Homo sapiens: one gene and its partner. The protein of the gene in region 2 interacts with the protein of the main gene of each other region in a biochemical or structural test. Each region holds a gene or a part of one and is shown on either strand. Other genes may lie near its edges.

What was found. The genes of interacting proteins can lie anywhere in the genome.
Region 1: the proteins of PTPN3 (region 2) and PDLIM4 interact in a test that uses a peptide from one of them, tested with the Homo sapiens proteins (one large-scale study listed by IntAct).

The regions. Positions count from the first base shown.
Region 1 is NC_000005.10:132,256,159-132,259,905, forward strand, and holds the start of PDLIM4 (PDZ and LIM domain protein 4), read left to right. Parts: upstream 1-1,537; 5' UTR 1,538-1,576; coding exon 1,577-1,669; intron 1,670-3,747.
Region 2 is NC_000009.12:109,488,221-109,491,867, forward strand, and holds part of PTPN3 (tyrosine-protein phosphatase non-receptor type 3), read right to left. Parts: intron 1-3,647.

The DNA of each region.
Region 1 (3,747 bases), on a different chromosome or scaffold from region 2:
CTCTCTACCCCATTTAGTAGGGTCTAAGTCCTGGGGAGCTTCTGGCCTACAGACCTCAGAGAGACAATGCAGTGACCAGCTCTCCTGCTGGCCCTTCCACCTTTCTTCACTTGGGATCCAAGTCTGCAAGGGGCTGAGCAGAAACCTCCTCCACCACAAAGTGATGGAGAACAGCCCAATGGCTGGTGCTCTAATGGATTCAGACACCGCACCCCCCCCCACACACACACCCCAAATACACTCCCATATAAACACCGCTACCACACACCACTTGTTTCTCTCCCAGCTGAACAGATAGCAGCATCTTGCCTCCTACAGAGGCACCCACATTCTACTCTGAAGGGCCCCTCCCTTCCTTGGACTGCCCTAGGTTTGTGCTTCTCAAGCAGTTCTCCTCTTTGCGGGTTGTCAGAGACCCAGTGGACACATTTCATCCCACCACCTGTGAGGAGCCCAAGAGCAGGGTCCTTATCACAGCTTGACTAAAAGGACACATAAGGTTAAGGATTTGGGCTAAATGAGAGACCTCCACAGAGTCTGGAAAAGTAAAAGGTGTCTCCCTGATGTAGCCAGATAGAAGTGCCGAGAGAACCAGAGGGAGGTTGGTGGTGCCATGGCATCTGCATTGGCTGTTCAAGTACATCCCCGGAGGATAATGGTTGGGAATGGAGAGAAGACCTTGGAGAGAAAAGGGCCCAAAGTGAAGCGCTGCATATATTTCTTCCCTTTACACTGCACAGCCACGACCCCAGCCGCTCCAGCTGCTACTTTCTCAGGAGACCTGGGGAAACAAATCTCCTGGCAAAGGACGAGGGGAGGGGGCTGTGCAGACAGGGAGGTGGCCTGCGAGGAGCCTGCAAGCAGCAAGAGAAGGCCTGAATGTTCTGGGGAAGCAGGGACACCTTGCTTCCAGATACAAGTCAGGGACCACCTCTTCCAGGAAGCCTTACTGGCCTCCACAAACTAGTCTGAGGACCTTTCTGTGTCCACTCCCACGCTCGGCGCTGCCTGCTGTCGTTTTGGGTCTGCGTCCCCGGCCCAGTGCTGCGCAAGCCCCTGGTTCATAGGGTTCTTGGTTCAGAGGGCTCCTCACACGGCAGGATGGGCCGCAGGTGTGCCAGTCGGGCCCATGAGGAGGTATCTGAGCTGGGGCAGCCCCATCCCCCAAGTGGGCCCTCCATCCCTCCTCGGGCTGGAGCACCGCCCCTAAAAGCGACTTCAAAGGGCCGGTGTCGACAGCTGGGTTTGGGTCCGCGGCCTGCAGATCCAAGGCCCGAGCAGGATCCAGGCCGTCGGGGCCGTCCGAACGCGGGGATCTCTGAGAGCTGAGTGGGGGTGCCGGGTTGCCGGCAGCCGGGGCTGAGGGCGGGTCCTCAGAGCCCCCCGAAGTGGGAGGGTCGGGCTGGCCGCGGGGCCAATCCAGGCGCACAGGGAGCGGGGGCGGGGGCTGGGCCGAGTGGGGACAGGGGCGGGCGGGCCGGGGGCGGGCGCGGCGTCCAGGCGGCGGCGGCGGCTGCGGCGGCGGCGGCTCCTCCTCAGAGTCCGGCTCAGGCTCCGGCTGCGGCTCCAGCCCGCGATGCCCCATTCCGTGACCCTGCGCGGGCCTTCGCCCTGGGGCTTCCGCCTGGTGGGCGGCCGGGACTTCAGCGCGCCCCTCACCATCTCACGGGTGAGTCTGGCGGCTGCGTGGCGGCAGGGCGGTCCCATGTCTGAGACCGGGTTCTCGCGGTCCGCCCGGGACCCAGATCCCCTGTGTATCCGAGGCTTGAAGGCGGAGGGTTGGCCTGGGCGCCCCGCATGCTGTAGAGGCGGCTTCCAGGCAGAGGCAGGCAGCCCCAGCCGCCCTCCTCCCACGCTGGGCCTGTCTGCCCGATCCCGCGAAGAATCTCCCAAGAGTTCACGCACCCGCCTCCCCGCTGGCCTCATCTGGGGGAGCCACTGTGGACCCGGGAAGGACCCGCGGAGATGGGCCAGGGGTCTAGACAGCTCTACAGAGGCCCAGAAACTCTTCAGACTCACCCCCTGCCTGAAGATCTGGGGCAAAATGATTTAGAGCCCCCCTTCCCCTATCAGGGGTCCCTGCCGGCAGAGCTTGGTGACCCAGGGAGGTCTGGGGTCCTCGCTGAATCTGAGAAGACAGAGGTCCATCCACTTCCCACTTTGGGCGTGAGTCAGTCTCTCATTCACGACCTCAGTCACCCTAAGGGGAAGTGACCAGGAGGAATTTTGGCTTCCAGGGGAAAGGGAGACTTAACTGTGAGGTTGTGAGACCCCTCCCCACAAGATGACACAAAGCCGGGGGCCAGGACAGCCTCAGGCCCGTTCCTCAAGTTTCCCAGGGCCCTGCCTTGCCCACAGAGAAGGAAAAGGAGCCGGCACAGCCCTGGAGCGTGGCTAGTCTGAGGATAGAGGAGTGGAGGAGGTGACTCAGGCCCTGTTCGAGGGGGTGCCTGTCTAGGGGAGACAGGATCCTGGCCCAGCCTCGACATCCTCGTGTCTGGAGGGCCAAAAGAGAGGACTCAGACCCTGCCCTTGGGGGTCCCCAGCCTAAGGGACAGAAGAGGAGAGAACCCAGGCCCTGCCCTTGGCGGCTCTCAGTCTGGAAGGAGCAGAGGAGATAACCTGAAACCATCTGACGGCCATCCCTTGCTCCCACACAGGCTGATCTTGTCTTTGGGGGCCTGTGTCAGAGGCACAGAGAAGCACCTTCCCCCACCCTACTGCCACCTCTTGCCATGGGGGCTGGGCCAAGCCGGCTGGGCTTTAAGAGACTTCTGTCCAGTTCTTGGGAGGGGGTGGGCACCAGGTGGAGCGTGGAATCATGGAATCCCGTTTCTGGGGGCCAGGGTGACAGGCAGGCCCAGCTGTCCTAGGAGGCTTCCCACATCTGCCCTCACTGCCAGGTCCCTGGGGCCGAGTGAGGTGGGCCTTCAACACATCCCAGAGCCTTTCATCTCCTCTTTCCTATAGGATTCCTGCTGTGTGTGTGTGTGTGTGTGTGTGTGTGTGTACGCAAGCCTGTGTCTGCTTGTGTGTGTCATGCTGTGTGTCCGCTGAGGGGGCTGGTGGGGACACTAAGCGGGCTGGCCAGGCACCCTGGGCGTGAGGCCGCTGACAGGCTCAGTGGCGGCGGCTGACGGCTGCAGGCGGCAGGGAGCTGAGACATCTGTTGCCCACGCGGCTGCCTGCCCTCCGAGGAAAGGCCTCCACACGTCACAGCTGCGGCTGCGGCAGCAGCAGCAGCAACAGCCTTGTTTGGAGCTGACTGGGGATGCAGGCCCCAGGCAGGCAGTCTGGGAGAAGGTTTGCCAGGAAGAGCCTCCTTTGTCCCCCAAAGTCACGCGGCAGCAGCTCAGGCCCAAGGAGCCAGGATGGCTGAGGTTGGGTTTGGGTGGGATCTGGGGAGATTTACAGCGCTGGGGAGGCACAGGCCACAGCTTGCCTAGCAGGTACCTCTGGGGCAGGTCTACAGGGACTGAAGATATGTGGGAGTGTCTTCACCAGTGGGGCTCAAGATCCAGCCCCTCCCTTGCTTCCAGGACCTCCCCTACGCGGGACCTGGTAGGGAGGGACAGCCTCACACAGACAGGGAGGAGGCTATCGGCCCGGCAGGGCTGGGGGCTTGCAATCTCAGCCCATGAAGCCTCCAGGAGTCCCAAGAACATCATCCGGGGCTCCTTCCCCACAAGCTATAATGATGGCTGGCCTTGGCCAAGCATCCAGGGTGTGCCAGGCCCTACCCTAATG
Region 2 (3,647 bases):
CCTCCGGAGTAGCTGCGACTACAGGCACCCACCAGCACTGTGTAATTTTTTGTATTTTTAGTAGAGGCGGGGTTTTGCCACGTTGGCCAGTCTGGTCTCGAACTCCTGACCTCAGGTGATCCACCCGCCTCTGCCTCCCAAAGTGCTAGGATTACAGGCATGAGCCACCGCACCAGGCTGAAAGTACATTTTTAAGCAGTAAAATCTAATAACACAGTTAACCAGAAAATCTTTCCAACATTCAGCAGTACTAGTATCTTGCATTCTAGGAACCGGAACATTCCTTTACTAACTGGCTTTTCCATTAAAGCTGCTGATGCCTAGAGTAATAAAAACACGACTGCACTGGACAGTGTTCTTAAAGTTCACATGACTGGGATGCTTCCCAGAAAATAGCTCCATTATCTTCACATTTTCATCCTATAATAATTTGTAATCCAGGAAGGCAAGGTTTGTATTTTCTTCTAGGCAGAAAATAAGTTAAAGAACCAGACTGTATGGATCCCAGAGCCTGACCCCTTGACCGAGTGTCTGGTCACTTGATATTACAAATCTAGACTTCCTGATAAATGGCCCTGTAGTGACCTTGTTACTGGGATCCCTAGATGCTGGTTTCCTGCCTGGTTTCTCTGCATCCAAGTCCCTGTCTGCATCTACTGTCCATCCAATGCCCATCCTCTTCTGCCTGGGTCCCCAATGCCACCTGCTTCCCTGCCTTTGCCAAAGGTCAGTGACTTAGTCATCATCTCAGAACTAGGGCTGGAACAGGGATGTGGGCGTTGGTGCAGGAAGAAGAGGTGGAAGTGTGAGCACTAGAGGAAAGAAGATAAGGTCTAGGGTGACTCCCGCCTCCTGCCCTTCTTTGCTTACACACCCTGGCTCTTAAATTCTATTAGAAATTGGTCAGTGGGAAGCACAGCTGGCTTGTTCATCTCCCTGTCCATCTATCATAAACTCTGTCCCTGCTCCTCCATCCAGCCAGGGTATGTGAGTGACGTTCCAGACTCTGCCAGTCCTTGTGGCAGACAGGTACCATAGTGAGGTGAGAGCTGACAAAAGGCCGGTGTGGCAGGCACAAAGCTGGGAGTGGCATCCTACTGGAGGTGGGACCACAGAGGTGTGGGGACCAAAGCCACAAACATCAGGCCTGCAGGCCATGCAGAGGTTAGTTTTGTCTTTATCCAGGTAGAAGATTCCTAGTGCTAGAGGGTTTTCCATGCTGGCTCACCCTGCACTGATCTCAACCTCGAAGTCACTCTTAAATCCGGACGTGACCACACGTCCGGATTTACCTAGGGCAGTCCCGGCTTAGACCCGTCAGTCATGTGCAATTATTAATAGGACCCCTTTTTATTCTCAAATTGTTCTGGTTGGGATGATAAATTCTAGTTGCACTGTTCTTGGGGGCCTAGGCCTGTGAAGTCAGTGCTGCAGTTAGAGAAGTCTACCCATGATTAGCAGGGACGCCCAGCCTGATGAGTCTCACCCCTCATCAAACATTCCATTTGCCTCTCCAGTATCCCTGCCAAACCATCATCTGGCTTCTGCTTGTATATCTGCAAGGACAGCAGGCTCACTATCTTCTCAGGAAGCCTCTCTTTTTTGGGGAAAGCTTTGTTATAAAAATAGCAGGATTCAAACCTGTATACAGTATGACTGCAACTAAATAACAACATCCAGGCCGGGTGGGGTGGCTCATGCCTATAATCCCAGCACTTTGGGAGGCCGAGGTAGGTGGATCACTTGAGGTCAGGAGTTCTAGACCAGCCTGGCCAACATGGCAAAACCTCATCTCTATTAAAAATACAAAAAATTAGCTGGGCGTGGTCGTGGACACCTGTAATCTCAGTTACTTGGGAGGTTGAGGCAGGAGAATCACTTGAACCCAGGAGGCAGAGGTTGCAGTGAGCCGAGATCGCGCCACTGCACTCTAGCCTGGGTGACAGAGCAAGACTCCATCTCAAAAAAAACAAAACAAAAACAAAACAAAAAAAACCCCACATCACTCAGCAGGGAAAGGCGTGGGGCTGGAAGAAAGCAGAAAACCTGCTGACTTTTCCCCTTGCACCTCCTTCCATCTCTCCCTCTCCTCATTCAACAAATATTTACTGAGTGCATTTGATGGTCCAGGGACTGTGCTTGGCACTGGGGACAAAATGGTGAGTTAAAACAGACTCAATGTGAGGGGCATTCTACAAAATAATTGGCTTGTACTTTCCAAAAACGTCAAGGTCTGGCTGGGCATGGTGGCTCACGCCTGTAATCCCAGCACTTTGGGAGGCCGAGGTGGGCGGATCACCTGAGGTCGGGAGTTGGAGACCAGCCTGACCAACACGGAGAAATCCCGTCTCTACTAAAAATACAAAAAATTAGCCGGGCGTGGTGGCACATGCCTGTAATCCCAGCTACTCAGGAGGCTGAGGCAGGAGAATTGCTTGAACCCAGGAGTCGGATGCTGCAGTGAGCTGAGACTGAGCCACTGCACTCCAGCCTGGGCGACAGAGCGAGACTCCATCTTGGAACAACAACAACAAAAAAAGTCAAGGTCCTGAAGGACCAAGAACAATTGGGGAACTGTCTTAGTTTAAAGGAAACTAACGAGACATGACAACCGTACGCAACCCATTTATAAGAGTTTTTTTTTTTTTGCTATAAAAAAGGACATCACTAAGACAACTGGCAAAACCTAACATCTAGGCCGGGCGCAGTGGCTCGGGCCTGTATCCCAGTACTTTGGGAGGCTGAGACAGGCAGATCACTTGAGGTCAGGAGTTCGAGACCAGCATCCAACATGGTGAAACCCTGTCACCACAAAAAATACAAACATTAGCCGGGCATGGTGGCACACGCCTGGAATCCCAGCTACTTGGGAGGCTGAGACAGGATAATTGCTTGAATCCAGGAGGCGGAGGTTGCAGTGAACTGAGATCACACCACTGCACTCCAGCCTGGGTGGCAGAGTGAGGGACACTCTCTCTCAAAAAAAAAAAAAAAAGTATATAAAACTTGAGGTTTATAGATTAAACAATGTTGTATCACTATTAATTTATTGATTCTAAAATTTGTATTGTAGTTACGGAATATCATCGCTTTTAGGAAATATATGTAGGGGGAAAGGAGGCATTGATAAATAATCCTCAAATGGTTCAGGATAGATATATATGTACACAGGGATAAAATAAAAAGAATAAAATGGTAATGTTTGGGGAATCTGGGTGAAGAATTTATGGGACTTCTTTGATTTATTCTTACAACCTTCCTATGGGTCTGAATTGTATCAAAATAAAACATTAAAAGAAAAAAAAATAAAACTTAGAAAAAGTTTTTTTAAAAAAGAGACCCTGCCTTCACACAGCTTACAGTGTAGCCGGGAGACAGGTACTAATACAAATAATTACATTAATTAACTGCAAAATTGCCACTAGGAAAAGTGCTATAATGGAGAGAGATCTGGTGGCATGAACATTTATAGCAACAATTTAACTCAAGTCAGGAAGGTGAGCAAAGGCTCTGCAATCATGGAGCTGAGACCCACAGGATGAAGTAATCAGTGGGGAGGGGGAGAAGGTCCCAGGCTCTTGCAGTCCCTGCAGCAGGAAGGAGCACGGTGAGGTGAGGGCTCAAAGAGCATGAACATAGGGCCTGCA